Linked DNA regions of Homo sapiens. The protein of the gene in region 1 purifies or fractionates together with the protein of each later gene. This does not show direct contact. Each region holds a gene or a part of one and is shown in the gene's direction. Other genes may lie near its edges. The genes, in order: INTS2, RPP30, SNX4 and OSTM1.

Region 1 (8,108 bases):
ACTGTTGGCAATTATGAACAAGGTGCATTTCTTTTAACCACAGCTCAAAGTATGCATGATTTGATGTCTATGTATAGGGAGGTAGACAGAAAAAGAGACAAGAAGTCAGGCAGGTTGAATTCTCCTCTACTCTTATTTTGTTCTTTTTTTTTGGAGACGGAGTTTCATTCTTATTGCCCAAGCTGGAATGCAGTGGTGTGATCTCAGCTCACTGTAATCTCTGTCTCCCAGATTCAAACGGTTCTCCTGCCTCAGCTTCATGAGTAGCTGGGATTACAGGTGCCCGCCACCACGCCCAGCTAATTTTTTGTATTTTTAGTAGAAATGGGGTTTCACCATGTTGACCAGGCTGGCCAGGCTGGTCTCGAACTCCTGAACTCAGGTGATCCACCCGCCTCAGCCTCCCAAAGTGTTGGGATTACAGGCATGGGTCACCGTGCCCGGCCTTCTCTACTTTTATTTCTATATATTTGTTTTCCTTTCAAAGCCTGAAAGGATATTATAAGTCTGCCTTAAAGTCCTTCTCTTAATTATCATTTTCTCTCATTTATACTTGTTCTGCATTTTCTATGAGAGGGATTTTTTTCCGTATGGAATCCATACACAGTGGCTTCTTGACATTTAGAAAGGGATTTATCTCAAGGCTTGTACAGATTATCAAATTTATTAGCAGATAATACCTTTATGGGATACAATTTCTCCCATAAAGTGTAATGAAGTAACATTTTCAATAACTGAATGTGAATAACTGAAAAATGTATGTGATTCATTTAGACACTGGATGAGCAGTAACAGCCTCATATATGACAGCAGAGGGGAGTATCAATGCTGAATTGAATGTAGGATGATTGGCTAGTCTCAATCACTAAATGACCAAAGTGCTTCTTTACACTAATGAAAGCTATTCAAGTTATCTTCTTTGTAAAATTATAGATTACTTAGGTCATAGACCTTTGGGTAATATAGTTAATTGAAACTCTGAATTTAAAATTTTTGAATGTCAAAGTTCTATCATATAAATAACTAAATTAGCTGGGCGTGGTGGTGCACGCCTGTAATCCCAGCACTTTGGGAGGCCGAGGTGGGCGGATCACCTGAGGTTGGGAGTTCAAGACCAGCCTGACCAACATGGAGAAACCCCGTTTCTACTAAAAAATACAAAATTAGCCAGGAGTGGTGGTGCATGCCTGTAAAAGAATTGCTTGAACCTGGGAGGTGGAGGTTGTGGTGAGCCGAGATTGTGCCATTGCACTCCAGCCTAGGCAACAAGAGTAAAACTGCCTCAAAAACAACAACCACCACCACCACAAAAACCCACTAAATTAGATCTTTATGTTTATTTACTGTTATAATTTTGGGGAGTCAGTTAATTTATAGTAAATAAAGTTTAGTTTTATAAATTGTGGACAAAAAGAGAAAGGACTAAATTCTGTTTTCATAGAAAATACTGGTAGAGAGGATTTTGGTGAGTTTTAGATAGTTTTTTTTTTTTTTTTTTTTTTTTTGGAGACAGAGTCTCACTCTGTCGCCCAGGCTGGAGTGCAGTGGCACAATCTCGGCTCACTGCAAGCTCCGCCTCCCGGGTTCACACCATTCTCCTGTCTCAGCCTCCCGAGTAGCTGGGACTACAGGTGCCCGCCACCATGCCTGGCTAATCTTTTGTATTTTTAGTAGAGACGGGGTTTCACCGTGTTAGCCAGGATGGTCTCGATCTCCTGATCTCGTGATCCGCCCTCCTTGGCCTCCCAAAGTGCTGGGATTACAGGCACGAGCCACTGCGCCCGGCCGAGTTTTAGACAGTTTTTAAGGTATGTTAAAAAATTTTTCTAAAATTTCCATCACCAATTATAATTTCCTTCTCTTTTTTACTATTTTGATACTTTTATTTATTTTTGTTTGTTTTTTTGAGACAGAGTTTCGCTCTTGTTGCCCAGGTTGGAGTGCAATGGTGTGATCTTGCTCACTGCAACCTTTGCCTCCTGGGTTAAAGCGATTCTCCTGCCTCAGCCTCCTGAGTAGCTAGAATTACAGGCACCCGCCACCATGCCTGCTAATTTTTGTATTTTTAGTAGAGACGGGGTTTCACCATGTTAGCCAGGCTGGTCTCGAACTCCTGACCTCAGGTGATCCTCCCACCTCGGCCTCCCAAAGTTCTGAGATTACAGGCATGAGCCACCATGCCCAGCCTATTTTGATACTTTTAAATTTCAGCCAAGAGTTTTCCTTCATCTTTTCCGTAATACCTCACTTGGTGACTCTAATAAATAAGTGACCTTTCTCCTCTGGGAGATTTCCAATTTTTTAGTTTGGCACTCTTCATTATATAGGAAATATGGTTATGAAACTATTGTGCAGAATTTCCAAAAAGCTTAGTAGATTTTGTTATCTAAACTTTAATTCTTTGTTTTTCCAACAGTTTATTCAGAATTGAACACGTATATATATATATATATATATATATATATATATATGTTTGTTTGTTTTCTTTTTTCTTTTTCTTTTTTTTTTTTTTTTTGAGACGGAGTCTCATTCTGTCTCCCAGTGTGGAGTGCAGTGGTGCTATCTCGGCTCACTGCAGCCTCCACCTCCCGGGTTCAAGCGATTCTCCTGCCTCAGCCTCCTGAGTAGCTAAGATTACAGATGGCCACCATGCTTGGCTAATTTTTATATTTTTAGTAGAGACAGGGTTTCACCATGTTGGCCAGGCTGGTCTCGAACTCCTGACCTCAGTTGATCCACCCATCTTGGCCTTCCAAAGTGCTGGGATTACAGGCGTCAGCCACTGCACCTGGCCATGAATTTATATTTGTTAAACTGCTTTAGGTTGACTGTTCTTGGCTTTTTTAAAGCAGTTTATGTAGGCTGCATTTGTAGTTCATTTCTTTGGCTTGCCTTATCCTTTAATTCCAGTTGTCTCCAAATATTTAGATAGAAATCAGTTCTTGAGATTGATACTGCTATATCTGAATAATAATTAACATGACTGCTGTGTGTGGTTAAATTGGTTGAAATTGATTGAATACTGCATATTCTGCTGTGGTATATTAGTGATACATTAAGAGACATAATCTGTGAGCTCAAGAAATAATTATAAAAATAGGGATTTAATTATCTGAAATTAATAGAGTTTATATCTTTTTTTTTTCTTTTTTAAGGTGTCTGAGTCCAACGGAGAATTTTTTTTCAAGTCTTCTGAACTTTTTGAGAGTCCAGTATATTTGGAGGAAGCTGCAGATGTACTTTGTATTTTACAAGCAGGTACTGTACTGAGTGCTAAGATGGATTTCATATATAGTTTCTTGTTAAATGATACTGTGTAACTTCTTAGCCTGGTATGCTGTGTTATTTTAGGGATCATATAACAAACATGTTATGTGATTTTAAGTCAAAAGTGACTAATAGTTGGACAATGATTAAGTAAATTATATTATTTTCATAGTGTGACATATTATGCAGACATTAACATGGTATCTTTGATTTAATGACTTTAATGCTCGTTAATGATTTTGGAAAATGTTTACAATATGTTAAGTGAAAAAAGCAAAGGGCAAAGTGTTAAGTAGACTATAATCCCAGTTTTGTTAAAAGTTCAAGAACAATACCCTTGATGAATTAAAATAAAATACTTATTTTTTTTTAGAGACAGAGTCTTGCTCTGTTGCTCAGGCTGGAGTACAGTGGCAGGATCATAGCCCACTGGCTTGAATTCCTGGACTCAAGGGATCCTCCCACTTCAGCCTTCTGAGTAGCTGGGACTACAGGCCTGTGAAAACATTTTTTATTAACTTTGAATTCTGGGATTAGGGCAGATTTTAATTTTCTTCTTCGTACCTTTTTGTATTTTCCAGATTGTATATAATAGGTGTGAATGATAGAAATAAAAGAGGACAGAAAAATGTAAAGAAGGCTGTCGCTCATGCCTGTAATCCCAGCACTTTGGGAGGCCGAGGCAGGAGGATCACTTGAGCTCAAGAGTTCAAGACCAGTCTGGGCAACATAGTGAGACCTTGTCTCTACCAAAATGAAAAAAATTAGCCTAGTGTGGTGGTGTATACCTGTAGTCCCAGCTGCATGGGAAGCTGAGGCAGGAGGATGGCTTGAGCCTGGGAGATTGAGGCTGTAGTGAGCCATGATTGTGCCATTGCACTCTGTCCAGAGTGAGACCTTGTCTTTTTTTTTTGAGATGGAGTCTCACTCTGTCACCCAGGCTGGAGTGCAGTGGTGTGATCTCGGCTCACTGCAACCTCCGCCTCCGGGGTTCAAGTGATTCTCCTTCCTTAGCCTCCTGAGTAGCTGGGATTACAGGCATGCGGCACCATGCCCAGCTAATTTTGTATTTTTAGTGGCGACGAGGTTTCACCATGTTGGCCAGGCTGGTCTCGAATTCTTAACCTTGTGATCTGCCTGCCTCAGCTTCCCAAAATGCTGGGATTATAGGCATAAGCCACTGTGCCTGGCTGCAGACCTTTTCTTAAAAAAAAAAAAAAAAAAAAAAAGTATAGGCCAGGCACGGTGGCTCACGCCTGTAATCCCAGCATTTTGGGAGGCCGAGGTGGGTGGATCACCTGAGGTCAGGAGTTGGAGACCAGCCAGGTCAACATGGTGAAACCCTGTCTCTACTAAAAATACAAAAATTAGCCTGGTGTGGTGGCAGGCTTCTGTAATCCCAGGTATTCGGGCGGCTGAGGCAGGAGAATCGCTTGAACTCTGGAGGCGGAGGTTGCGGTGAGCTGAGATTGCGCCATTGCATTCCAGCCTGGGGGACAAAAGCGAGACTTCGTCGCAAAAAAAAAAAAAAAAAAGCAAATAAGATTTTCGTGAAAATAACTCTTTAGACCAGTTCTATAAAATAAAATTTCCTGTACTGTTCTATGCTATGCTGTCCAGTGTTCTTTGTGGCTGTGGATTACTTGAAATGTGGCTAGTGTGATTGAGGAACTGAACTGTTTTTAATATAAGTATCCTTATGTTGCTAGTGGGTATCCTACTGGACAGCTTGGTTCTAGACTATGAAAAGAAAGTACTTTATTTTAGATGACATTTGTGAAATGTCAAAAGATATTTAATAATACAATGAAATGTCATTTTTGGTTGGGCATGGTGGCTCATGCCTGTAATTCTAGGAGTTTAGGAGGCTGAGGCAGGAGGATTGCTTGAGCCCAGGAGGTTGAGGCTGCAGTGAGCTATAATCACACCACTGCACTGTAGCCTGGGCAACAAAGCAAGACCCTGTCTTAAAGAAGAAAAAAAGAAATATCACTCTTTAACACTGGGTCCAGGCATGGTGGCTTATGCCTGTAATCTTAGCACTTTGGGAGGCTGAGGCTGGAGGATCACTTGAGGCCAAAGTTTGAGACCCACCTGGGCAACACAGTGAGATTCAGTCTCCACAGAAAATAAAAAAAATTAGCTGGGTGTGGTGGAGTGCACCTGTTAACAAAGACTAACACTGACTTTGTTTTCTTGTAGAGCTCCCTTCCTTGCTCCCTATAGTTGATGTAGCTGAAGCTTTGCTACATGTTAGAAATGGTGCCTGGTTCTTGTGTCTCTTGGTGGCCAATGTTCCTGATAGTTTTAATGAAGGTAAATATGATTCTAATATGGTATATTGAAAAGACTTGCTTGGACATGTACAGGACCTATCTTTTTGACCTAAGAAGAAACATTAATGGGATTTTATTTGAGATTTTATCTTTTGAAAGTTTGTTAGTATGTATAAAGAAATATTGAGTTCACAAATTGTATTGAGTTTAAAGATCAGGCTGGGCGCAGTGGCTCACACCTGTAATCCCAGCACTTTGGGAGGCCGAGGCGGGCAGATCACAAGGTCAGAAGTTTGAGACCAGCCTGGCCACTATGGTGAAACCCCATCTCTACTAAAAATACAAAAATTAGCTGGATGTGGTGGTGGGTGCCTGTAGTCCCAGCTACTGGGGAGGCTGAGGCAGAAGAATCGCTTGAACCTGGGAGGTGGAGGTTGCAGTGAGTCGAGATCGCACCACTGCACTCCGGCCTGGGCGACAGGGCGAGACTCCGTCTCAAAAAAAAAAAAAAAAAAACCCCAAGGAACTAGAAGATGTAATATCTATAATCAGGGATCAAAGAAGATACATGTATCAGTGAAATATCAAGAGAGCAATACGGGATATGTATAATGAGAAATGCTAGGAATCAGACCTTTGTTTTTTAGCCCTACTGCTGTCAGTTTACAGAGAAGTATAAAGTAGAAATTGAGAAAAATCGACTACATTTTTTCACCTCTATTTAAAACTTACAGTGATTGAAGGTTGTTGTTTGGGTATGAGTGATATAAAAATAAAAACATTTTGTTGAGCAAGGTAGTTTGTGAATTAGGAGCCTGGGAGGAAAAAGTACTGGAGTTATAATTCCTGATTTTGTCATTCACTTATTGTGTGAGCTCTATCAAAATACTTCTCATCTGGCTGGGCACGGTGGCTCATGCCTGTAATCCCAGCACTTGGGGAGGCCGAGGTGGGTGCATCATTTCAGGCCAGGAGTTTGAGACCAGCCTGGCCAACATAGTGAAACCCCGTCTCTACTAAAAATACAAAAATTAGCTGGGCTTGGTGGTGGATGCCTGTAATCTCAGCTACTCAGGAGGCTGAGACAGGAGAATTGCTTCAATCTGTGAGGTGGAGGTTGCAGCGAGCCGATATGTGCCACTGCACTCCAGCCTGGGCAACAGAGTGAGACTCTGTCTTAAACAAACAAACAAACCAAAATACTTCTCATCTGTAAAATGGAGATATTGATAGTGTAATAGTTCCCTGACTTTTTTAAGAGATTTATTGAATATCAGATGATATGTAAAAACTCTTTGTAAACTGTGTCCTTGCCGATTTTTTGTCAACTTGTTCTGTCAATTACTGAGAGAGGAGTTTTGATGTCTCCAGACATAATTGTGGATTTGCCTATTTCTTCTTTTTGTTCTGTCAGTTTTTGCTTCATGTATTTCAAAGCTCTTTTGTTGGGTTTATATGCATTTAGGATGATTATATCTTTATGATGAATTGAGCCTTTTTTTCATTATAAAATATACTTTTTTCCCCAAGTCAAATTTGATTTCTTTATTCTTAGTTTTCACATTTATAGTTATATCCCCCTTTCTAAACATTATTTACATATTATTCAATTTGTTGTCACCTTTGTTTTAATTTTTCTTTTTAAAAAAATTCGAAGTTTTATTTTAGATTCAGGGGGGTACATGTGCAGGTTTGTTACATGGGTATATTGTATGACACTGAGGTTTGGAGTTTGAATGATCCCGTCACCCAGGTTATGAGCATAGTACCCAATAGGTAGTTTCTCAGCCCTTGTCCCCTTTCTTCCTCCCCACTGGTAGTCCCAGTGTCCATTGTTCCCATCTTTATGTCCATGTGTACCCAATGTTTAACTCCCACTTATAGTGAGAACATGTGGTATTTGGTTTTCTGTTTCTGTGTTAATTTGCCTAGGATGGGATGGCTTCCAGCTTTATCCTTGTTGCGGCAAAGGACATGATTTCATTCTTTTTAATGGCTGCATAGTATTTCATGGTATATATGTACATTTTATTTAATCCACTGTTGATGGGCACCAAGGTTGATTCCATGTCTTTGCTATTGTGAATAGTATTGGGATGAACATACAAGCGCATGTGTCTTTGGTAGAACAATTTGTTGTCCTTTGAGTATATATCCAGCAGTGAGACTGCTGGGTCGAATGGTAGTTCTGTTTTAAGTTCTTTGAGAAATCTCCAAACTGCTTTCCACAGTGGCTGAACTAATTTACATTCCCACCAACAATGTGTAAGTGTTCTCTTTTCTCCACAGCCTCGCTAGCACCTATTATTTTTTGACTTTTTAATAGCCATTCTCACTGGTGTGAGATGGCATTTCATGATTGTTTTGATTTGTGTTTCTCTGATGATTAGTGATATGGAGCATTTTTTTTCATGTTTTTTGGTTGCTTATATGTCTTCTTTTGAGAAGTATCTGTTCGTGTTCTTTCCTCACTTTTAATGGGGTGGTTTTTTGCTTGTTGAATTGTTTATGTCCTTATAGATTCTGCACATTAGGCCTTTGTCAGATACATTTTTGTCAATATTT
Region 2 (7,967 bases), on another chromosome or scaffold:
TCATTGAAATGTTATAAATAATTTTCTCATATCTACTCTTTGTTCATTTTATTTCAGCCTTTAGAAATAAGAGGGCCATATGACGTGGCAAATCTGTATCCTTTTCTGAGTAAAAAGTTGTTGACATTGTCTTTCAGGAAATTTTGAATTTGAAGTCGTATTATAGTTGAACATGTATTTTTCTCAACCTTTTACTGTAAGTTTACCAATTAATAACTTCAAAAATAAATTATATAACATTATAGAGAGCTTTATGCTTCTGTTTTTTAATTAATCATGAGATAGAAAAGAGGGAATGAGGGACTTCATATGATAAAAGCTTAGAGTTAAATGAGTCTTTTCTCAGATGCATGTTCCAGTTGGACTAAGAACTGCTGTTGAATTAATTAGCCTCTCAAGATGACCAGGTTAGCTGGCACTTTCTGTTATGTTTGTGTTAGTCTCGTGTCCTTGGGTGACTCTGGGTTGAAATCTTTAATGCTCCCCCAAGAGGCTTGCTGTTTGGGCTCTCTGAAAGTGACGCCAAGGCTGCGGTGTCCACCAACTGCCGAGCAGCGCTTCTCCATGGAGGTAAGCAAGTTCTTCCAGTACAAACTGAATGGTCATGTTAAAAGCAAGTCATTTTTACAGCCATACCTATTTTTATTGCCCTACCCTACAGAGTTCCTTTGGGATCATCTTTTCTCAACCTGTTCTAAACACAGTCATCAGTGTTTTCTCACCCTCACTTCAGGCTTTACTTTCTAAAGTTTGTAGAATGAATATAGTTTTCATTACAGAAATAAGTATTGAATAGTTCTTCCAGCTATACATGTGTGCTCCTGCCGACATTTTGATAGGCTTCTAATCTCCCTTCCTTCTTCTCCCTCACCAGAAGGCCATGCTTTCCCTGTTGAAAATCTCTGTTTTAGAGAACGGATATGTTAAAAATATGTGTTAAACTATTTATTAGGAAAACAAAACCAGCAAATACATTTTTAAAAATCCAACTAACAAAACATAGACTGTAACTTTTACATTTATTATAACTCAGAATGTTTCTTTTCTCATGTTTGCTTACATGGTCAAGTTGTGTCCAGACTGTACCTTTTTTATTTTTTTTTCTTTTTCTAAATAGAGACAGAGTCTCACTATGTTGCCCAGGCTGGTCTTGAACTCCTGGGCTCAAGCAATCCTCCTACCTCAGCCTCCCAAAGTGCTAGGATTACAGACATGAGCCACCATGCCCGGCCAGACTGTACATTTTTTACTCACATTTTGTATATGTACCTTTTCACTGACTGAGTTTCCTGCTCATCAGATGTTAAAAATTGAAAGTATGCTGAAACTTTGGAAAATGAAAGTGAAATTTTATTAAAACAATTTAAGCTTTTGATCACTGTTTTGTCTTCGTTATCTTTATAATTCTTAGGACTAGTTGTAGTGGTTAAGAAGCAATTTCATTGATATCACCCAAGTGAATTTTAAACTTCAAAGTAGATTGCTACATATAGACTGAGTTATTTGTCATATGAATAGCTAGGTTATTGAGGGCTTGTGTGTTGGGCTTTATTGATCTGATTTCCACTTGAGAGAACTGCTTATGTATTGGCTTGCCGTAAATTAGATGATTTTGCTTTTAGTTTCAACATTTTTAGTTTGAGATTTTTGTATTATGTAGCCTAGAACTCATCACATAAGCTTTGGGAGTGGTCAAATTAATGGAGATTTTGAATAATGATTTTCTTGAAATTAGGGAACAGTTGGTTCACACTTTGATAGTTCTGTCATTATTTTGATCTATTTTAAATAAACATTCATCAGGATTTTGAGTAACAGTTGGGGTTCCAAAATGGACTAAACAAGAAACAGAAACTAAAATATAAATACATACATAATTTTATATATAGGAAAATAGGAAGTCCTGCATTTGACTTTAAGAACTCAGCTATTCAGCATATAACACATAATATGTAAAGTATTTTTTTTTAGAATTTCTTTTTGTGGGTACATAGTATGTGTATATATTTATGGGGTACTGAGATATTTTGATATAGGCATGCAATGCATAATAATTACATCATGGAAAATGGGGTGTCCATCCCCTCAAGCATATGTCTTGTGTTATAAACAATCCAATTATGCTTTTTTAGTTATTTTTAAATATACAATTAAATTGTATTGACTATGGTCACCCTCTTGTGCTATCATATACTAGACCTTGTTCATTCTATTTTTTTTGTACCCATTAACCATCTTCACCTCCCTCTCAGCCCCCCACTACCCTTCCCAGCCTCTGGTAACCATCCTTCTACTTTCTGTCTCCAGGAGTTCAGTTGCTTTGATTTTTAGATCCCACAAACAAGTGAGAACATGTGATGTTTGTCTTTCTGTGTCTAAAATCAGGCTTTTATAGAAGCTAAACTTAAAGAAGACTTGTGAACTTTGGGTGGCATTACCATTCACCCCAGTGTACCCAGGACAGTTCTAGTTTATGCCTGCTGTTTCTGTGACCTTATTAGCACTTCTATTCCCTGAAGAGAGTCCTAAACTAGATGATAAAATATGGTTACCCTGGTTTTCGTTGCCATTGGGATCAGTATGAGACGGTAGTATGATGTGTTCTTAAGATTGCTAATTCAGCCTAGGTAATATTAGAAGAAATAAAGGATTCTGAGACAAGGAAATTCAAAGCCTCGTTATTATACTCTCATTGATGAAATCTCAGCCGGCATCTGTATCATTCTGAGTGCCACATTTAAGAAGGACAGCAGTGCACTGAAACACTATTGGAAAATGTCTACTCAGTCCTTAAAGGGTCTGGAAGCCTCATGATGAGAGGAATCACGAGGGTGGTGCAGACATGGATACCTGGCAAGCAGAAGAGTTGGGACACATGGTAGTTAGCTTTCAACTTGGAAGGCTTGCCACAGGAAATCAGAATTAGGTTCTTTGGGGGTCCAGAAATCTAGAAACCAATGAATAGCAATTCTGAGGAGGTTGTGGGGAAAGGACAGAGGAAAGAGGCCCAAGGTCAGGGTCTTTGGCCTGTGATTGATAAAGTTCATGCCCTCAATCAGCCCCTGGACCAAAATGAACCTGTTGGGGACACCTGCCTTAGCCCCTTGTGAACAAAATTATTCACTCGTAGATAATCCTTTAGATTTTCCTTGGCAAGATGATTAAAGGAAATACTATATGTGAAAACATTTTATAAACTAAAGCATACACAAATGTAACGTCTTGCTGTTACCAAGAAATGCATTTATTTTTAAAAGACACTAAAGAAATTAATGCATTTTGTTAAAAAGTGCTGATTTTCATAATGTTTATATTTCAGTTGATTTTTAGACTATGGGTACAGAATCAGTGACATAAATTAATAGCTATAAGTGTGACGTTTTTCATTTGGTGAAATGGAAATCATTGACAGTTTTTATTTTGAGGTTCTTATTATGTTGGCATTTTAATGACCTTGAGAGCAGTTTTATCCCTTTTACAAATAAAAGTGTTTTAAAATAATTGGCAGAGTAGATTTACTAAGTTAATCTTGATAAATGGGAAAATAATGCTTAACACTTTATGGTTGACTTTACGTTTATTACTTGAAATAAGGAATAATTCATAGCTAAATTTCTGTTCAAGTTCTTTTGATTCTGCCACCTTTGTAGCTAATGGGTATCTCTCTCTTTCTCCATAATCCCTTTCCATTTCTAAGGACAGAGTTTGGGTCTGTTTTCATGACACTATGGCCTTTCATAAGTTACCCTTCCAAACTCTATTTTCTCCTAATTTTTTTGTATTCCTACTTCACATCAGCCATATTGTCCCCTAAACTATTTTACCTAGGTTCTTCTTATCTTTCTCTCCATGCCTTTGTAAAGGAATATTTCTCTTTTTCTTACTCCGTTTACCCTATTCTGAGTAGTGTCACCTTTATATAATACCTCATTGCTTTAACCAGGCAGTTAATTCTTGTGGATGCCTCCATTCCTATTATATTTGCTCTTATTGTGCTTCTCGCATGCATGTAGTATAGGGAAAAGCACTGTCTGTTAGGAATCTTAATACCCTCTGTATGGACACAGTGCCTAGCCTATTAGTAGGTTTCTAGGAAAAATTGGTTAAATTTAAGTTGAACTCTGCTGCCAGCCTAATCTAAGCATTTAATAATTTCTATTTATTCTTTGTTCATTGTCACCAGTTAAAGAGATCAATAAATTTATGAGTGATTTTATTCATTAACTCAACTAGTATTTACTGAACACATTTTGCATAACCAGGCCATTGTTGAGTGTTGGCAATATAATGCAATTGATTCTTCAGAGGTACCTTGATGTTCTAATAAGAGAGATAGGGTACATGCTGTAAAATGAGGCAAGCATGTGCTCCACATGGGAGCCATACACTTGATTGCTGTGTTTGCTCTCTTGATTTGTCTGTCTACCATATATAAAGTGTCTGCTACATCAATGTCTGTGACTGGGTTCTGGCTACATAAGATGCCATGGACAGACCATTAGAGATAACACTGTCCTGCAGTTTTACCCATGAGGTAATCTTTAGGAATGAATTAGATGTTAATAATATACTGATATTTGTGTCTGTTGGGAAAAAAAGATAATGACGGTAAATGGCACTAGCAGCCATAGCAGTTCATTATGGCTTATCATTTGCTATTGCTGTAAGCCAAAGTAATATGTTAAACCACCTCATTTTAAATTATGTCTTAACTTCAAGCACAGTGGTTTCCCTGTTTGTTTTACAGAAACTAGAAAAACTGCTTTTGGAATTATCTCTACAGTGAAGAAACCTCGGCCATCAGAAGGAGATGAAGATTGTCTTCCAGCTTCCAAGAAAGCCAAGTGTGAGGGCTGAAAAGAATGCCCCAGTCTCTGTCAGCACTCCCTTCTTCCCTTTTATAGTTCATCAGCCACAACAAAAATAAAACCTTTGTGTGATTTACTGTTTTCATTTGGAGCTAGAAATCAATAGTCTATAAAAACAGTTTTACTTGCAATCCATTAAAACAACAAACGAAACCTAGTGAAGCATCTTTTTAAAAGGCTGCCAGCTTAATGAATTTAGATGTACTTTAAGAGAGAAAGACTGGTTATTTCTCCTTTGTGTAAGTGATAAACAACAGCAAATATACTTGAATAAAATGTTTCAGGTATTTTTGTTTCATTTTGTTTTTGAGATAGGGTCTTTGTTGCTCAGGCTGGAGTACAGTGGCATAATCACAGCTCACTGCAACCTCAATCCTGGGCTCAAGTGATCCTCCCGCTTCAGCCTCTCAAGCAGCGGGAACTACAGGTGTGCACTACCACACCTGGCTATTTTTTTTTTTTTTTTTTTTTTCCCTTGTAGAGACATGGTCTCACTATGTTGCTGAGGCTGGTCTCAAACTCCTAGGATCAAGCCATCCTCCCGCTTTGGCCTCCTAAAGTGCTGGGATTACATGAGCCACCACATGCAGCCAGATGTTTGAATATTTTAAGAGCTTCTTTCGAAAGTTTCTTGTTCATACTCAAATAGTAGTTATTTTGAAGATATTCAAACTTATATTGAAGAAGTGACTTTAGTTCCTCTTGTTTTAAGCTTCTTTCATGTATTCAAATCAGCATTTTTTTCTAAGAAATTGCTATAGAATTTGTGGAAGGAGAGAGGATACACATGTAAAATTACATCTGGTCTCTTCCTTCACTGCTTCATGCCTACGTAAGGTCTTTGAAATAGGATTCCTTACTTTTAGTTAGAAACCCCTAAAACGCTAATATTGATTTTCCTGATAGCTGTATTAAAAATAGCAAAGCATCGGACTGAACCAACTTTGGAAATAATTTATTTTTATAATGGGATCATGTTAAGTAGAAGTAGCTTTTTATGCAAATACATGCATTTATGCAATATTAATGTAAGGGCTCTAAAACAATGGAGTAGAGCCAGAGGTATAACTGAATAAGAAATTTTTTTAAGCAAGAGAAAGACAACTGTTCTGCGGGTTGGAGAAAATACAATTTTTTTTTTTTTTTTTGAGACAGTCTCGCTCTGTCCCCCAGGCTGGAGTGCAGTGGCTCGATCTCTGCTCACTGCAAGCTCCGCCTCCTGGGTTCATGCCATTCTCCTGCCTCAGCCTCCTGAGTAGCTGGGACTACAGGCGCTCGCCATGTATTTAGCAGAGACGGGGTTTCACCGTGTTAGCCAGGATGGTCTCAATCTCCTGACCTCATATTCCACCCGCCTCGGCCTCCCAAAGTGCTGGGATTACAGGCGTTAGCCACTGCGCCCGGCCCGAGAAAATACAGTTTTAAAAAGAGAAAGCTTTATAACCTCACCAATGAATACAAATGTTTAAATAAAATATTGATTAAAAAAACATTAAAAGTGCATCATGACCAGGTGAAATTTATTCTTTTTTTCTTCTTCTTTTTGAGACAGGGTCTCACTCTGTCACCCAGGCTGGAGTGCAGTGGCACAATCTCGGCTCACTGCAACCTTTGCCTCTTGGGCTCAAGCCATCCTCCCACCTCAGCCTCCCAAGTAAGTGGGACCAGAAGCATGCACCACCACATCCCAGCTAATTTTTGTATTTTTTTGTAGAGATGGGGTTTTGCCATGTCCAGGCTAGTCTCAAACTCCTGGCAGATTCAAGCAGTCTGTCCGCCTCAGCATCCCAAAGTGCTGGGATTACAGGCACAGGCATGAGCCACCATACCCGGCCTTCCAGTTCTTTTTAATGCAGTATCCTTTATCATATTCATAGGTCAAAAGAGAAAAATCAGAATATTTTTAATAGATGCCAGAAAGACATTTAATAAAGTTAAATCCACTCCTGATTTTTAAAATGACAACAATAAAAACCCATGGCAAAATTAAAGTAGAATAATATTGTATGCATACATATATATGTTCATATGTGTCTGTTTTTTGTGTATATTAAATGTGATGGCTCCAAAAGCATTTTTGACTACCGCTTGGCCAATTTGATGGATTAACCTACTCATTCCTTCTGTAAAACTGAGGCTGGTGCTGCTGAGGCCACACACCAAAAGTCTGCCACTTCCTTGTGTGCCAGTTTGCTTTTTTCCTTCACCCTGCTTAAGTTCACCAAAAGTCAGCTGTGTTTATTCACAAATCTGTTTAAGGCAGCTGTGTTTAGCATTGTATGTAAATTATTTTTTTAAATATGAAAATTGATGAGCTATTGGGGGCAAATGAAAAATTCCCGGGAAAACTAAGTCAACACTTTGGAAAGGTTTGGAAAAGAGTCATTACAAAGAACTGCTGTCAAATTAGATATGAGAAGGATAACAAATTTGGGGGTGATCAGTAAAAACTCTGCACTTGGATTGCTTCACTAATGTCAAGTTCCTTTTCTGCTTTAAAGGAACTAGAATTCAACAAAGACAACTTTTGATCTCTCATCAGAGAGATCATACTCCCAAGAACAGGCTTTGACCCTTCTTTAAAAGGTTGGTACCCAAGTATACATTTATCTATTTTAAGCTTAAAATGCTTAACAGGATGTATGTTCAATTTTTTGCGACGTCCCACCTTAATTTATGAATTAGTGATGTACCAGCTACAGTTGCACCAGATACAGTAAGATTTTCATGTTATAGAAAGGAGGTAAAATTATTTGCAGATACGACTGTCTTGGAAAACTCGTGAAATAAATGGGAAAAAAGTAGAAATACAGGTACCTTTCAGCTTACGTCCATTTACTACACATTTGTGTAGTATGTGTTTGCAGTTGTGCGTGCTTTCTATTCATACATGTTTATGCCATTGTTCATGATAGTAGGGCATGATGGCTGATCACCAGTGAATAGCAGAGGCAAGTTTCCTTCTAATATTTACTTTCGTTAGAATGAACCACTAATTTAATTGCTACAAGATGCCAATACCTCTGCCAAACCAAGATGAAGTTTGGCAGAGTGGCCAATTGTATAAATACACAAAAACCAGATTTTGATTAATAACCT
Region 3 (8,108 bases), on another chromosome or scaffold:
CACCACGCCCGACCAATTTTTTTTTTGCACTTTTAGTACAGACGGGGTTTCACCATGTTAGCCAAGATGGTCTGAATCTCCTGACCTCGTGATCCGCCCGCCTCGGCCACCCAAAGTGCTGGGATTATAGGCATGAGCCAGCGCGCCTGGCCAAGCACTATAGTTTTAAAAGTGCTTTTCACAGAGATTACCCACTGGCTACATCTGTGAAAAGTCACAGATATATGTGGGGAAAGACTTGTGACCAGGACACATGTATAAACTAGGCCCTTGGTTTATTTTTAAAACTCAGTGGGAGAAGTTCCCAGGCCATTTTCAGGGAGCTTGGTTCTCTATCCTACATGTCAAGGGAAAAGTGTTTTCTTCAGTAAACTCCAGAGAGTGAGGAAATGTTAAAGCAGTGAAGCTTGGGGTTGCCTTCCCATGCTTGGATTTAGGTATCCTGTTTTATTAATAGATGCCCAAGTTTGAGCGTTGAGTTATGCAGATTTTAAATATGCTTCTTTAGTTTGGTTTATTTCCATAGTTGCCTAGTGAATTTATCGACTTTTTTTATAACATAAAGTAATTTTTAAAATATCATTCATACAGAGTAAGAAATAACGTCTAATATTTCACGTGGAAGTTTTCCATTTGATTATGAAATTCAAGCCGGGTATGGTAGCTTACAATGGCAATCCCGACACCTTTAGCAGCAGAGGCGTAAACCCAGAATTGCTTGAGCCCAGGAATTTGAGACCAGTGTGGATTAATATAGCTAGACCCTGTCTTTACCAAAAATTTAAAAATTAGCTGGGTGTGGTGGCATGCACCTGTGGTCCCAGCCACTTGGGAGGCAGAGGTGGGAGGATCACTTGAGCCCAGGAGGTTGAGGCTGCAGTGAGCCATGATTGTGCCATTACATTCTAGCCTGGGCAACAGAGCAAGACCCCATTTCAAAAAAAAAAAGAAATTCAGTTAGAAGTGTCTTCTTTTTGACTACTCCATATTATTTCAGTGTTAGAAATTCTATTAGGATTCTTGGCTATGACTCTGTAAAAATAAATAAAAACTCATATAAGAGATCCCTGGTTGTGAAGCTTATGGTGGTTTTGTCTGACTTAGGGGAAATATGGCAAATGTTTTCTATTTCCTTTGTGTGTGTAGTGAAATATATATAACATAAAATGTACCATCTTGTCCATTTTTAAGTATATAGTTCAGTAGTGCAGTCATCCCTCAGTATCTTCAGTGAGATTGGTTTAAGGATCCCTGGGATACCAAAATCCTCAGATGCTTAAGTCCCTTCTATAAAATGGTGTAGTATTTGCATGTAACCTGTGCATATCCTTTTGTATACTTTAAATCAGCAGTCGCCAACCTTTTTGGCACTAGGGACCTGTTTTGTGGAAGACAGTTTTTCCATGGACCAGGGCAGGGGGTGCTGAGGATGATTTCGGGATGAAACTGTTTCATTTCAGATCATCTCAGGCATTAGATTTTCACAAGGAACACACAACCTGGATCCCTCACATGCGCAGTTCACAATAGGGTTCGTGCTCCTAAGAGAATCTAATGCCTCTGCTGCTGATCTGACAGGAGGCAGAGCTCAGGTGGTCGCTTGCCTCCTGCTATGCAGCCTGGTTCCAAACAGGCCATGGACTGGTATCACTCCGTGGCTCTGGGGTTGGGGACCCCCTGCTTTAAATTATCTCTAGATTATTAATACCTAATACAGTGTAAACACTGGTGTCTCATATAAGTGGAATCATACAGTATTTGTCTTTTTGTATCTGTCTTATTTCACTTAGCATAATGTCCTGCAGGTTTATCCATGTTGTAGCATATATCAGATTTGATTCCTTTTAAAGGCTGAATAATGTTCCATTGTATGTGTATGTGTATGCCGCATTTTGTTTATCCATTCATCTGTTTCTGTTTCCTTTTAGACTGTGAGAACATTCTCTTTGAAGGGAATGACTACCAAGCTCTTTGGTCAAGAAACTCCAGAGCAGAGAGAAGCCAGAATAAAGGTGCTAGAAGAACAAATAAATGAAGGAGAACAACAGCTAAAGTCTAAAAATCTGGAAGGCAGGTAAAGATGCTGCGATGTTTAAGTAAGCTAGGCTTGTAGACTATATGGTAGATTATTTTATTTATTTATTTATTTATTTTGGTAACAATTCCCAGCTTCATTGGCATCCCTGAATACAGCCTATTCCTTTAAAATGCATTCCTAAGAAATTTGAGTTATCACGCTGGGTGTGGTGGCTCACGCCTGTAATCCTGACACTTTAGGAGGCTGAGGTGGGAGGATTGCTTGAGCCTGGGAGTTTGAGACCAGCCTGGGCAACGTAGGAAGACCCTGTCTCTACAGAAATAAATAAATAAATAAATAAATAAATAAAAATAAAAGAAAGTTGAATTATCAAAAATAATGTTATAGAAACAGTTGTTTCAATGTGGGGGAAAGAGAAATAAAAGTTTCAACTTCATAATATTATTTTCCTGCACTATTCCTGATTTCTACCCTTTGTACTTTCCCTCCACCATTTCTTCTCCCCTCCCCTCCTTCAGTACCCAGCTGAAGTGTTACTTCATTGTGAAGCCTTCTCAGGCTATCACGGCATTTAATTCATGCCAGTATGGTATGGCAGTTTTGTATTAGATGATTGATTGTTCTGTGTGACTATCCCTGGCTAAATTTAAGCCCTTCAAAGTCAGTGATTGTATCTTTTCCACATTCACATCCCAGTGCCTTACATAGGGCTTAGCATGTAATTGTTACATAAGTATTTCTAGAAATTCAGTTCTCAGAGACCCACTATCACTGTTTGACTCATTTTTCTTATTTTTGTTTTCATCTGACAGTCAGTGAATAGACCAAGGCAGACCAAGAGTGTATTTTGGGTTTTGAGGTGGTTTTGTTCATTTTTAGAACTACTAGCACCAAATATGGCAAAGTAATAGATAGAATTAAAAAAGACAGGCCGGGCGCGGTAGCTCATGCCTGTAATCCCAGCACTTTGGGAGGCTGAGGTGGGTGGATCATGAGGTCAGGAGTTTGAGACCATCCTGGCTAACATGCTGAAACCCTGTCTCTACTAAAAACCAAAAAAATTAGCCGAGCGCGGTGGCAGGCGCCTACAGTCCCAGCTACTCGGGAGGCTGAGGCAGGAGAATGGTGTGAACCTGGGAGGTGGAGCTTGCAGTGAGCGGAGATCACGCCACTGCACTCTAGCCTGGGCGACAGAGTGAAACTCTGTCTCCAAAAACAAATACCTCTCGGGATTTTAATTTTTATTATTATTTTTCATTTTTTTGAGACGGAGTCTCACCCTGCTGCCCAGGCCGGAGTGCAGTGGTGCCATTGTTGCTCGCTGCCACCTCAAAGTCCAGGGCTCAAGTGATCCTCCCATCTCAGCCTCCCGAATCACTGGGACTACCGGCTACCAAGCCTGGCTAAAAAAGTTTTTAAACTTTGGTTGTGATTTAAAACAAGTACATGCAGCTGGCCGTGGTGGCTCACACCTGTAATCCTAGCACTTTGGGAGGCCTAGGAGAGTGGATTGCCTGAGGTCGGAAGTTCAAGACCAGCCTGGCCAACATGGTGAAACCTTGTCTCTACTAAAAATACAAAAAATTAGCCGAGTGCAGTGGCGTGTGCCTGTAATCCCAGCTACTCTGGAGACTGAGGCAAGAACCCTGGATGTGGAGGTTGTGGTGAGCCAAGATCACGCCTCTGCACTCCAGCCTGGGCTACAGAGCGAGACTTGGTCTCAAAAAAAAAAAAATGCTAAACGTGATTCATAATCCATCTTGTCAAAAGAGTGTATATTTTCCAGTGACCCCTGGAAGGCACTTACTTCATTGTGACTGACACCTGTTAGGTTTGTGAGCTGGCTTAAGGAGTCATCTATGTGTATTTTATAGGAATAATTTAAAGGTAGAATCCTTGTGGCAAAAACTTAGATTATTAGGCCAGGTGCAGCGGCTCACGCTGTAATCCCAGCAGTTTGGGAGGCTGAGGTGGGCAGATCACCTGAGCTCAGGTGTTCAAGCCCAGCCTGGCCAACATGGTGAAACCCTGTCTCTACTAAAAATACAAAAATTAGTTGGGCGTAGTGGCGTGTGCCTGTAATCCCAGCTACTCAGGAGGCTAAGGCAGGAGAATTGCTCAAACCCGGAATGCAGAGGCTGCAGTGAGCCAAGATCACGCCACTACACTCCAGCCTGGGCAACAGAGTGAGACTCTGTCTCAAAAAAAAAAGAAAAAGTAGATTAAAAGGTACAAGAATATATGACTGTCTGTTTGCTTTTTCCCTAACTATAATTTTTAGGAAAATAAAAAAACTGTCTTATACAAGCAATAACTCTTCCTTCTACATAGGCAATTAAAAACCAACGCCAATGAGAACTGGTTAACTTTTTAGTACACAGTTTATTTAACTTAAATAATAATAATGGCTATACCTTTTATTTCAGAGAATTTGTGAAAAACGCATGGGCTGATATTGAACGCTTCAAAGAACAAAAGAACCGAGACTTAAAGGAGGCCCTCATAAGCTATGCAGTCATGCAGATCAGTATGTGCAAAAAGGTAGGGTTTTTCCTGTTTCAGTGAAGATATATGTATATTCAGAAGTGCTTATACATGTATTTAAATTACCTGACCAAAAAATTTTTCATTTTTATTCTTCTCTTGTAGAATGTTTACCAATTTCTCTATTTTAATTTTGTAGGATTTCTGTTTTATTTTGTTTTGGTTTTTTTATTTTAAAATTTTAAATATTTAAAAAATAGATATGGGGGGGTCTCGCTATGTTGCCCAGGCTGGTCTCGAACTCCTGGCCTCATATAGTCCTCCTGCCTCGGCCTCCCAAAGTGCTGCAATTACAGGTGCGAGCCACCATGTCCAGCCTCTACTGGTGTTACAACCAGTATGCCCATTACTGAGTCTCCACTCATCTAAAGTCCAAATTTGTATCTCCATTTATAACTTGTATTTGAGAATATATACCAAGATTATTTAGATCATATGGTACTCTTGGACCAGACAGTAAAATACCATTCCAGGTATATGCTTTGATTGGAAAATAGCTTGAACATTATTTCGTGAAGACCTGGTTATGATATGCTTCCTCATAAAGTAAATCATTTGTGTTGCTGATATCCATAGTGAAAGATACAAACATTGAAGCTTATTCTAGTTAAAATAAATGTTTGACAATGATGGAAGACTTTCTAAAACGTTGGTTTAAGAACAAAATAGGAAACATTCCTTAACCTCTTTTTTATAACCTAAGATCTGCCAGTGTGACTACCAGTACCAGTGCTTTGATTTGTATCACCTGTCATAATTTATCAAGCACTTTTACATGCATTATCTCAGTAAATTACATGGTAAGATGAATTCTCACATTTATAGGGCAAAATCACACTCATATAAATATATATACAATTCTTATGCTTTAGTTTGTCCCAAAATTTTATTTTTTGGCTGTGGGCCATCACTGAGAGAACAAAGATATTTTGAGGCATAAACACCATACGCACTCACTGGTTAAGTGGGCTCCATTTGGTTTGGACAAATTCATATTTATGCTCAGTGAATTATAAGTTACTGTATACCGTGGATCTTTGGAGTCACTTAAAACAAGTTTAGATCGTGACTGTTGAGTCTGCAGGTGCTAAAGGTTGAGTATGTTGTAGTTTGGTAGCATCTCTATCTTTTTTTTGCCTTCATTCTGTCACCTCTTCTTGCCTGCAGCTAGGTGCTAGATATTTACAATCCATTGTCTTTTTCTTTTTTCTTCTTTTTTTGTTGAAATGGGGTCTTACTGTGTCACCCAGGCTGATCTTAAACTCCTGGGCTCAAGCAGTCCTCCCGCCCTGGCCTCCCAAATTGCTGGGATTATAGGCATGAGCCACCACACCCAGTAGTACAGTCCTTTTTCCAATCTAACTTTTTAACCTCAAGAAATCTGAAAGACCAGATAACAAAGGTTTTTAGTTTTTTTGTTTTTCCTGTAAAAGACTCATTAATAAGCTCCTTGTGATCTCTCATTCACTTCTTTCCAAAGTAAAGTGCAAGACCTTTATATAATGTCTCAAAGGACTTTCCCCCTCCGTTTTGTTTAGGCTGCAGTGGTTGAGGGTGCTAGAAATTTAATCTGTGAATATAAAAGATACTACTATAGCTGTATTTGGACATACTGTTGGATATTTTGTAGGTTTATTCACAAATCCTTAGATAACTAGTAAAACAAAAAGTTTAATAAGAGTTTATGTTCACCTTGTTTCCCAAGAATGGTACTATGCAATTTTGTCGTTTTGTTTTCTTGCCTAAGTGATATAGATTTTTATATGTGATCCTAGCTATTTGGGAGGTTGAGGCAGGAGGATCACTTGATCCCAGGAGTTCAAGACTAGGCTGGGCAACATAGTGAGACCTTCTTTCTTTCTTTCTTTCTTTTTTTTTTTTTTGAGACAGAGTCTCACCCTGTCACCCAGGCTGGAGTGCAATGGCATGATCTCAGCTCACTACAACCTCCGCCTCCCGTGTTCAAGCAATTCTACCTCATCCAGCCGAGTAGATGGGATTACAGGTGTGTGTCACCATGCCTGACTAATTTTTTTGTATCTTTAGGAGAGACGGTTTCACCATGTTGGCCAGGCTGGTCTCAAACTCCTGATCTCATGATCCGCCTGCCTCCACCTCCCAAAGTGCTGGGATTACGGGTGTGAGCCACCGCACCTGGCCCGAGACCTTCTTTCAAAAAGAAAAGAGAAGAAAAAGAAAATTGTTCAAAACCTTAATAAATGACACACTTTAATGATTAAGTATTAAAAAGTTCCTTTCTCATAAATGAGTAATTATTGGAGAATATGTATCTTATTGAAAAAATACCTTACTGAAAAAAACCCTTGCCGGGTACAGTGGCTCACTCCTGTAATCCCAGCATTTTGGGAGGCCAAGGCAGGTGGATCACGAGGTCAGGAGATCGACACCATCCTGCCTAACACACGGTGAAATCTCATCTCTACTAAAAATACAAAAAATTAGCTGGGCATGGTGGCAGGCGCCTGTAGTCCCAGCTACTTGGGAGGCTGAGGTGGTAGAATGGTGTGAACCCGGGAGGTGGAGCTTGCAGTGAGCCGAGATCGCGCCACTGCACTCCAGCCTGGGCGACAGAGCAAGACTCTGTCTCAAAAAAAAAAAAAAAAAAAAAAAAGGAAAAAACCCTTAAGTTTTACTGTTACATCTCTATAAACATGTATTTTTGCTTATGCATATTAGGCCATCTATAACTGTGCTAAGTAACTTCAGGTACTAAGAGGGATTCAGTAATTTAGTACATAATTAGTTTTTATCAAAACTTTAGTTATTAGAGTGATAATTTAATAACTCAATTTATATTTGTTAGACTAATGAAGTTTTTTGTTTCAAATATTACATTGAAAAAACCGAGCCGGGCACTGTGGCTCACACCTGTGATGCCAGCACTTTGGGAGGCAGAGGCAAGCAGGTCGCTTGAGCCCAGGAATTCCAGACCAGCCTGGGTAACATAGTGAGATTCCATTTCTACAAAAAAAAAAAAAAATACAAAAAATAAGCCAGGTGTGGTGGCGTGCACTTGTGATCCCAGCTACTTGGCAGGCTGAGGTGGGAGGATCCCTTGAGCCCTGGAGGTCAAGGCTGCAATGAGCCATGATTATACTCCAGCCTGGGTAACAGAGTGAGACCCTATCTCCAAAAAAAAAAAAAGACTGAAAACTTGTTTGATTTACAAATAGAAATTACTCGAGTATGTGATATGAAATGAATTAACTCAGTTTTCCAACAAGTTGTAGGAGTTCTTTTTCCATTTTGAAGATAAGTTCGTATTAGAGATTCTGTTTCTCTTTTCAGAAGCATTAGACATTTGCTTATATTAGCCACTTCCCAAAATAGTGTCATATTTTCTCGACTTCTTAATTATTCCAAAAAGCAAAACTTAGTGTACCACTAAGCCAAGTACTTGGGTTTTCAGATTCCTTCCAAACTCACATTTTAAAGTTTTTATTTTTATTTTTAGGGAATTCAAGTTTGGACCAATGCTAAGGAATGCTTTAGCAAGATGTAATCC
Region 4 (8,108 bases), on another chromosome or scaffold:
GTACAGCAATATAATTAGTTTAACTATAATAGAATTCCCTGATAAGAATCCTAGGTTCTTGTCACTTCCTTTTAGAATTTCTGGGAGAGGGATCGCATATAGTTTCATTATCTCAAGGTGAAAAATACAGTGATTTCTGAAACCTGAATGATAGAACTGAGGGATTCCCTCTTCCTTAGAGTCATACTTTCTCCTTTTAGTTTAAACTGATAGGGACATAGTTTCATTGTGATTCAGCATTATCGGAATGGTCCTGAGGATGCTTTTGCCCCCTCAGATTCTGAATTGGTAGGCTCTGTCCTATTCTACTTGGTTTGTTTAAAATTTAGATAGTGTTTAAAATTTAGATCTATAGATCCATCCATCTACCTATCTATCTCTATCTATCTATGTATCTGTGTATCTTTGTGAAGTGCTAGTCATTTGGGTTATGTATTTGGTGAGTATTCAATATACTTTTACTGTAGATTATTAAATAATGAATTCTGAGGACTATAGGGAGAAAGCCAGAACATAGTGTAATAATCTGTGTCTTTCATTAGAGATCAGAAAATGTAATATTTCTTCTGCATTCATTCAAAAAAATTATTGAGTACCTATTATGTACAGGTTGTGGTAGCTACTAGGGATATAGCATGAATGAGCAGAGCTTGTAGTCTGAAGACAGACATTAAGCATCTCATTATACAAATAATTATTTAATTCATGTGTGATAAGTGTTGCTGATTAAAAAACCCAGATGCTACCAATGCATATGACAAGAGTGCTGATCTTGAGTATGACTGGGGGGTAGGTAGAATGGTCAGTGATTAAAGCAGACACCTACAATTTGAGAGAACACAGGCAGGGGAGGGAAGGTATACATGTAAAGAAATAGCAGGCATGAAGACTGAGATGGGAAGGAGTTTGTGGTGTATCTGAGGTCTAGAACACAGCACAGTGAGCAAGAAGGAAACCCGTGGTCTGAGCCTAAGGAAGTACACAGGTGCCAGGTCATGTGGGCCTTGTAGGGTATGTTAAGGATTTTAGACTTTGATTTTAAAGCAGTATGACGTTAGTGAAAGGTTTAATTCTGTGGAATGACATAATCAGATTTGTACTTTAAAAGGCTATGCTGGCTATGTGACAGAAAATGGAGAGGGTAGGGGCTGGGGAGGGTAGGGGAAGAAGATATGTGGGGAGATGAATTAGGAGACTGTTGCAGTGGTGTGAGAGACAGTGGTGTCTAGGCTATGTGGGGGCCATCATGATGTGGAGAAATGGGTGGATTTCAGAGATACTTAGGAGGCAGAAATTACAGGCTTGGAGGTTAATTGAATGTGGGGAGTAAGGAAAAGGTAGTGATGATTTCCAGGGTTTTAATAAGAGCAGCTTAATGAATAGGGTTGTCATTTACTGAGCTGGAGGGAGGAGTCTGTTTAGTGGGCGAAGATCATTAACTCAGTTTTGAACGTGTTGATTTTGAGGTGTTTATGAGCTTTCTAAGTGGATATATTGATTGCCTATGTGGTTGAATATACACATCTAGAGGACTGGACTAGAGATAACACCTTTGGGAGTGTCGGCATAAAAATGGCATTTGAAATTATGACATGGGTGAACATACCTGAAGAATGAGTAGGAACACTAAGAGTTTAAGATTAAATAGAGGGTAAACTCTCAAAGGTGACTGAGAAGGAAGAATTGGAGAGATAAAGAAGAATGAGGAGAGCATGATGCCCTGTAAATCAAGGAAAAGGGAAGGGGTGGTTATTTGTGTCAAATCCTGCTGAGAGAATTGGAGATATATCTGTCAACACTGGCAGTATTGGTGACACTAACAAGAGTGAATTTGATGGAGTCCTTGGGTACGAAAGTGAGATCAGAGTGGGTTGAACAGGGATTGGAAGATGAGGACATGGGAAGAGTGAACCTAGACAACTGCTGAAGAGTTTGGCCTTGATGGGGAGATAAGAAAGAGAAGTCACTAAAGAGCAATGTGGGACTCAGAGACTTTCTTTCATTTCTCTTTCTCTATTTTTTTTTTTTTTTTTTTTTTTAGACAGAGGCTCGCTCTGTCAACCAAGCTGGAGTGCATGGCACAATCTCGGCTCACTGCAACCTCCACCATCCCAGGTTCAAGCGATTCTCCAGCCTCAGCCTCCTGAGTAGCTGGGACTATGGGTGTGCACCACCACACCCAGCTAATTTTATACTTTTAGTAGAGATGGGGTTTCACCAGGTTGGCTGGACTGGTCTCGAACTCCTGACCTTAGGTGATCTGCCTGCCTCGGCCTCCCAAAGTATTGGGATACAGGCGTGAGCCACGGTGCCAGGCTGACTTTCTATCATTTCTTTCCATTCCCCTGTCCCTCCATTCCTCTGTCCTGCCTTCCCTTCTTCCTTGTCCAAGATGGGAGAGAGCTGGACATGTTTAAATGTTGATAGTAAGGGTCCTTTAGAGAAAGTGAAGATTCTGTAGGAGGGAGTGGGAAGCAGACAAGGTCAGTTTCCAGAAAAGGCAGGATAGATGGGATCTAGGGCATCCTCAGAGAGATGGGCCTTGAAAAGGACAGGTGCCTTCCCCACCTTAATGGGAGGGTAGAAGGAGAGGTTGCATGTAGGGGTAGGCAGGTTAGAGTTTCAGCTCGAAGGCTTCTGTTATCCAGGAGGCTAGATCTTCTTTTGAGAGTAAAGAGTGGGAGAGAGATCAGAGTTTCTGGGAGAGTGGAGAGGATTTGAAATAGCGGTTGTAAAAAGGAGAGAATGAGCAGACAGAAAAGTGAGGAGTACGGTTTGGGATTATGGATTTACTTTGGAATTAATCTGTGTTGTTAATTTTTTGCCAGCAGCTCCTGACTTCCTGGGTGCAGGCATGATCAAAGGAAATGGCTGGCTTCAAGATGGTTAGGGTTCTGCTAAGTAGTTAGGATAGATTTGAGTATTAAGAGTTCTAAGTATAAGCAAGGACCATTGATTTTTTGGTCACTTGGCGAGGTGTTGGGAATACAAAGATGTGACAGTTTCCATTTTAAAGGGACATCTGTCCAGAAGAGAAACCTAAACATATATAGGTGGATATCATGCTTTAAGAAACCATGCATCAGGGTAATGACGCATGGGTCCCACATTGCTCTTTAGTGACCTCTCTTTCTTATCTCCCCATCAAGGCCAAACTCTTCAGCAGTTGTCTAGGTTCACTCTTCCCATGTCCTCATCTTCCATTCCCTGTTCAACCCACTCTGATCTCACTTTCACACTCAAGGACTCCATCAAATTCATTCTTGTTAGTGTCACCAATACTGCCAGTGTTGACAGATGTACCTCCAGTTCTCTCAGCAGGATTTGACACAAATAACCACCCCTTCCCTTTTCCTTGATTTACAGGACATCATGCTCTCCTTATTTTTCTTTATCTCTCCAATTCTTCCTTCTCAGTCACCTCTGATAGTTTACCCTCTACCCAGCTAACACTACCTATTTCATAGAGTTGTTATGAGGATTAAATAAGGAAGTTGGAACATTTGGAACTGGTAAGTAGTAAGTACCTCATCATCGTTTGGATTATTAATCATTTCCTTTCTGTCCTCACTGTTGCCATCATCCTTTCATTATACCTGATCTATGGAAGTAGTGTAATGAGTCTCCCTGCCTCCTCACCCTACATATCACGGCCTAAAGATGTATTCCTCAAACTGCTTTTCATGACACCCTCCTCATAAATCTTAAAGAATTTCTCACTGGCTAACTCTCATGACCCTCACGGCCTCTCATAACCTTGTTCTAACTTAGCCCTTTAATAGCCCTACTTTCATAGACTACTGAATACTCTCCGAATACCACATAATCATTATCACTTTCACCCCATGATCATTTAATTCTTCTATTTTCGAATCCTCTTCTCTTCCTCAATATAGGGCTTAGTTCATATCCTGCTTCCTTCATGAACTCTTTCCTAATTTCTCAAAACTACATTGATATCTTCCTGAACCGAACTGTTCCACACATTGAACACTCATACAGGCTCTACTGTATTGATTTTTAAAATAGCCAGTCACCCACTTATGAAGATTCAACTTAACCAACTAATGACACTTATCCAACTAAACCTACTTAGAGCACTTCAGGTTGGCAGCATGGTAGCTAGGTGAAATAGCATATATCAGTCACTGTGTGCCAGACAGTGTGCTGAGTGATTAATGTATGCTATTTCATTTAATACAGTAACTGTAGGACCCCTGATTTTGAAACTGAACCTTAGCGAGGTTGGGTCAGCTGCCCAAGGTCACTAGCTAGTGACCCAGGCTTGTATTAATACAATATTATTACTTCTACTTAAGAAGTGATAATAGGCCAGGCATGGTGGCTCATGCCTGTAATCCCAGCACTTTGGGAGGCCGAGGCAGGTGGATCGTCTGAGGTCAGGAGTTCGAGACCAGTCAGGCCAACATGGTGAAACCCCGTCTGTACTAAAAATAAAAATTAGCCAAGCATGGTGGCATGTGCCTGTAGTCCCAGCTGCTCGGGCGGCTAAGGCAGGAGGATCGCTTGAACCCAGGAGGCAGATGTTGCAGTGAGCTGAGATTGCGTCACTGCACTCCAGCCTGGGCGATAGAGTGAGACTCCATCTCAAAAAAAAAAAAAAAAAAGTGATAATAGAAAATTTTCTTCTATGGCTGGTATTGCTCAGAAGGTAATTCTAAAAAAGAGTTTTAAAATGTTCTGTTCATGGCCAGGTGCAGTGGCTCATGCCTATAATCCCAGCACTTTGGGAGGCCGAGGTGGATGGATCATTTGAGTTCAGGAGTTCAAGATCAGCCTGGCCAACATAGTGAAACCCCGTCTCTACTACAAACACAAAAATTAGCTGGGTGTGGTGGCATGTGCCTGTAGTCCCAGCTACCTGGGAGGCTGTGGCATGAGAATCGCTTGGATTTTATATTTTAAAGCAGAAATTCTTCCTTTTCTCCCTCTTTTCTCCTTTTTTCCATTTCTTCTCCCACATGACTGACCATTTGTTTCCCAGGAGTTACCACTCTTTTATTATTCATCACACTGTATAACTCCTTGTCTGTGTAACTGCGAGAGGTTCTCAAAGCCCCAGAATTGATGGCATTCTTTTATACTTTTTATATCCTCAGAACTTCAGGATTTTTATAGTGCCTAGTAAATAGTAGGAGTTAAATAACTTTGAAAGAATTAAGGGTCAGCAGGACTTAGTTCCTTGCTTGGGGCACGAAGGAAAGGAAATAGATAAGGATCAAATGATTTGGGAACTTGGATTTATTATTTGCATAGCATGAGTTTCTTTCATTATTAAAATGATCTACAAAAGCATATTTTTCCATCTGGGTACAAACTATTTAGATAACAAAGATTTTCTTCCTTTGCAAGTGAACCTAGTACCAATAAATGTTAGCTGCTAATTACTTTATTATCATTGTTTTTATTAATGTTAACATCTGATCATATCAAACAAAATGTTAAAAAGCTTATAATAAATGTTATTTTTGTAAGGTTTTTGCCTCAAGTTGTTTGCAAAGTCTGAAAATACTCAGATTGTATTTTTCTGTCTTCTTTTTGTTACAGAATACTTCAGAGAGTCAGAGTTGTGCCAGAAGTCTCTTAATGGCAGATAGAATGCAAATAGTTGTGATTCTCTCAGAATTTTTTAATACCACATGGCAGGAGGCAAATTGTGCAAGTAAGTAATTCTTTCATTTTCATGTTGCAGTTATGGTTCAGTAGTACAGATGTCAGATTTTATTTTAGTGAATTTTGGGATCTTTGAAGCTGGATAATACTTTTTATTGCTAAGTTTAAATAAACTGTCATGGACACCATGGTTTATTAATGGCAACTGAGCAAATAGCGAAAGGCAGAAAAGTGTAGCAGTTACTATGAGCTTTGGATTTAGATAGACTTGGGTTTGATTCTAAGCTCTGCCACTTACTAGCCCTAACCTACTAGCTGTCAGATATGGGAGAAAAACTTTGCCTCTTGGAAGTTCAGTTTCTTCATCTGTAAATTGGTGGTAATGATAGAACCTATCTTATATAGTCGCCTTGAGAATGAAATGAAATAAATTGTGTAAAGCACTTAGCTCAATGCCTGACACGTATTTAGTGTTCAAGAAATGTTAACTGTTTAGTATAATAATAATTATGATGTTTACAGTAATCTGTCAAGTGGTGTGTGGCAGGCGGCGGGGTGGGATGATGACATCTGTTCTACCTTCTTTGCAGGTTTGTGTGTAATTGTGTAATAAAATAAGATCTATTTTTAGATATTCTTTGGAAAAATTAAAATCACTTCCAATTCAGATGATGTTTTGAATACCAACTATGTGCTAGGCAGTTCTTATTTTTCAAGTCTTATAATTTAATGAGTGAGAAAGATATATTTACAAATACAGCCTAGGACAGACACATAAATGCTTTAATAAAGTTATAGAGTCCTTGGAGGAAGAAGAAAATAAATCTTACTGGGGAGAATTTGAAATGACTTCCTGGAGGAGCTACCTTTTGAACCTAGGCCTGTACTATTGGACATGATTTCAATAAGTAGAGATGACGCCAGTGAGGCGGCTCACGCCTGTAATCCCAGCACTTTGGGAAGCCAAGGCAGAATTGCTTGAGCCCAGGAGTTTGAGACCAGCCTGGGGAACATAGTGAGACCCCCATCTCTACAAAAATATATATTTTTTAAATTAGATGGACATGGTGGTGTGTGACTGTAGTCCTAGCCACTTGGGAGGCTAAGGCAGGAGGATCCCTTCAGCCCAGGAATTCAAGGATGCAGTGAGATATGATTGTGCCACTGCATTCCAGCCTGGGCAACAGAGCAAGACCCTGTCTTAAAAAAAAAAAAAAGTAGAAATGAGAGAAGGACATTGCAGGTAGTCACAGAGGTATAAAAGGGCAACAGATGTTCCAGGAAGCATAGTGGGAGGTAAAGTTAGCAAGGGAAAGTAGGACCTTGACTGACAGAGTAGTATACTATTTGGGCCAACATTTTTTATACTGCTTAGAATATCAGCATATTATTAAGAAGGGGTTATAGACCAGGCATGGTGGCTCACACCTGTAATCCCAGCACTTTGGGAGGCCAAGGTGGGAGAATTGTTTGAGCCTAGGAGTTCAAGACCAGCTTAGGCAACATGGCAAAACTTTGTCTCAACAAAAAATAAAAAATTAACTGGACTTGGTGGCATGTGCCTGTAGTCCCAGCAACTTGGGAGGCTGAGATGGGAGGTCAAGGCTGCAATGAATCATGGTTGTGCCACTGCTCCCCGCTCTGGGCAACAGAACGAGACCCTATCTACAACAACAATAACAAAAAAAAAAAAAAAAAGAAAAGAAAAGCTTATATAGTATTCTCCTATTATGATTATATAGTATTCTATTAGCCATGGTTTCACTTGCTGTAGTTTCAGTTACTGCAGTCAACTGCAGTCCAAAAATATTAAATGGAAAATTTCAGAAGTAAACCATTTATAATCTTAAATTGTGTATGATTCTGAGTAGCATAATGAAATCCCATGCCATCCTGCTTCATCTACTTGGGCTGCGAATCATCCATTTGTGCAGCATATCTATACTGTAGATGCTGCCCCTCCTGTGAGGCACTCAGGAGCATCTTGGTTATAAGGTCAACTGTCATGGTATGGCACTACTTGTGTTCAGGTAACCCTTAGTTTACTTACTAATTCTTTAATAATAGTAACATAATTATTAGTTTTTGTTTTTAATCTCTTACTGTGCCTAATTTATAAATTAAACTTTATCATGGGTATGATATAGAAAACAGAAAAAACCATAGTATATAGAAGGTTTGGTACTATACTAGAAAAAAAAACATAGAAATAGAAAAAAACGTAGTATATAGAAGGTTTGGTACTATACTTGGTTTCAAGCATCCATTGGGAGTCTTGGAATATATCCCTTGAAGATAAGAGTTGACTACTGTATGTTGTAGTATCTTTGGGATTTACAATGCACCTGGAATATTAAATGCATTGAGATTTTTTTAAAAGGGTTTTTTTTTGGCTCAGTGGGGAGGCTCACACCTGTAATCCCAGCACTTCAGGAGGACAAGATGGTAGTATTGCTTGAGCCCAGGAGTTCAAG

Evidence for each region.
Region 2: the proteins of INTS2 (region 1) and RPP30 fractionate together in Homo sapiens (co-fractionation; one large-scale study listed by BioGRID). This does not show direct contact.
Region 3: the proteins of INTS2 (region 1) and SNX4 fractionate together in Homo sapiens (co-fractionation; one large-scale study listed by BioGRID). This does not show direct contact.
Region 4: the proteins of INTS2 (region 1) and OSTM1 purify together in Homo sapiens (co-immunoprecipitation; one large-scale study listed by IntAct). This does not show direct contact.

What each region holds. Positions count from the first base shown.
Region 1 is NC_000017.11:61,916,875-61,924,982, reverse strand, and holds part of INTS2 (integrator complex subunit 2), read left to right. Parts: coding exon 1-22; intron 23-3,155; coding exon 3,156-3,258; intron 3,259-5,469; coding exon 5,470-5,583; intron 5,584-8,108. UniProt on the Homo sapiens protein: Component of the integrator complex, a multiprotein complex that terminates RNA polymerase II (Pol II) transcription in the promoter-proximal region of genes.
Region 2 is NC_000010.11:90,895,823-90,903,789, forward strand, and holds the end of RPP30 (ribonuclease P protein subunit p30), read left to right. Parts: intron 1-57; coding exon 58-95; intron 96-490; coding exon 491-570; intron 571-4,747; coding exon 4,748-4,857; 3' UTR 4,858-6,369; downstream 6,370-7,967. UniProt on the Homo sapiens protein: Component of ribonuclease P, a ribonucleoprotein complex that generates mature tRNA molecules by cleaving their 5'-ends. Also a component of the MRP ribonuclease complex, which cleaves pre-rRNA sequences.
Region 3 is NC_000003.12:125,447,776-125,455,883, reverse strand, and holds part of SNX4 (sorting nexin-4), read left to right. Parts: intron 1-1,928; coding exon 1,929-2,074; intron 2,075-4,464; coding exon 4,465-4,579; intron 4,580-8,057; coding exon 8,058-8,105; 3' UTR 8,106-8,108. UniProt on the Homo sapiens protein: Involved in the regulation of endocytosis and in several stages of intracellular trafficking. Plays a role in recycling endocytosed transferrin receptor and prevent its degradation.
Region 4 is NC_000006.12:108,061,760-108,069,867, reverse strand, and holds part of OSTM1 (osteopetrosis-associated transmembrane protein 1 precursor), read left to right. Parts: intron 1-5,568; coding exon 5,569-5,683; intron 5,684-8,108. UniProt on the Homo sapiens protein: Required for osteoclast and melanocyte maturation and function.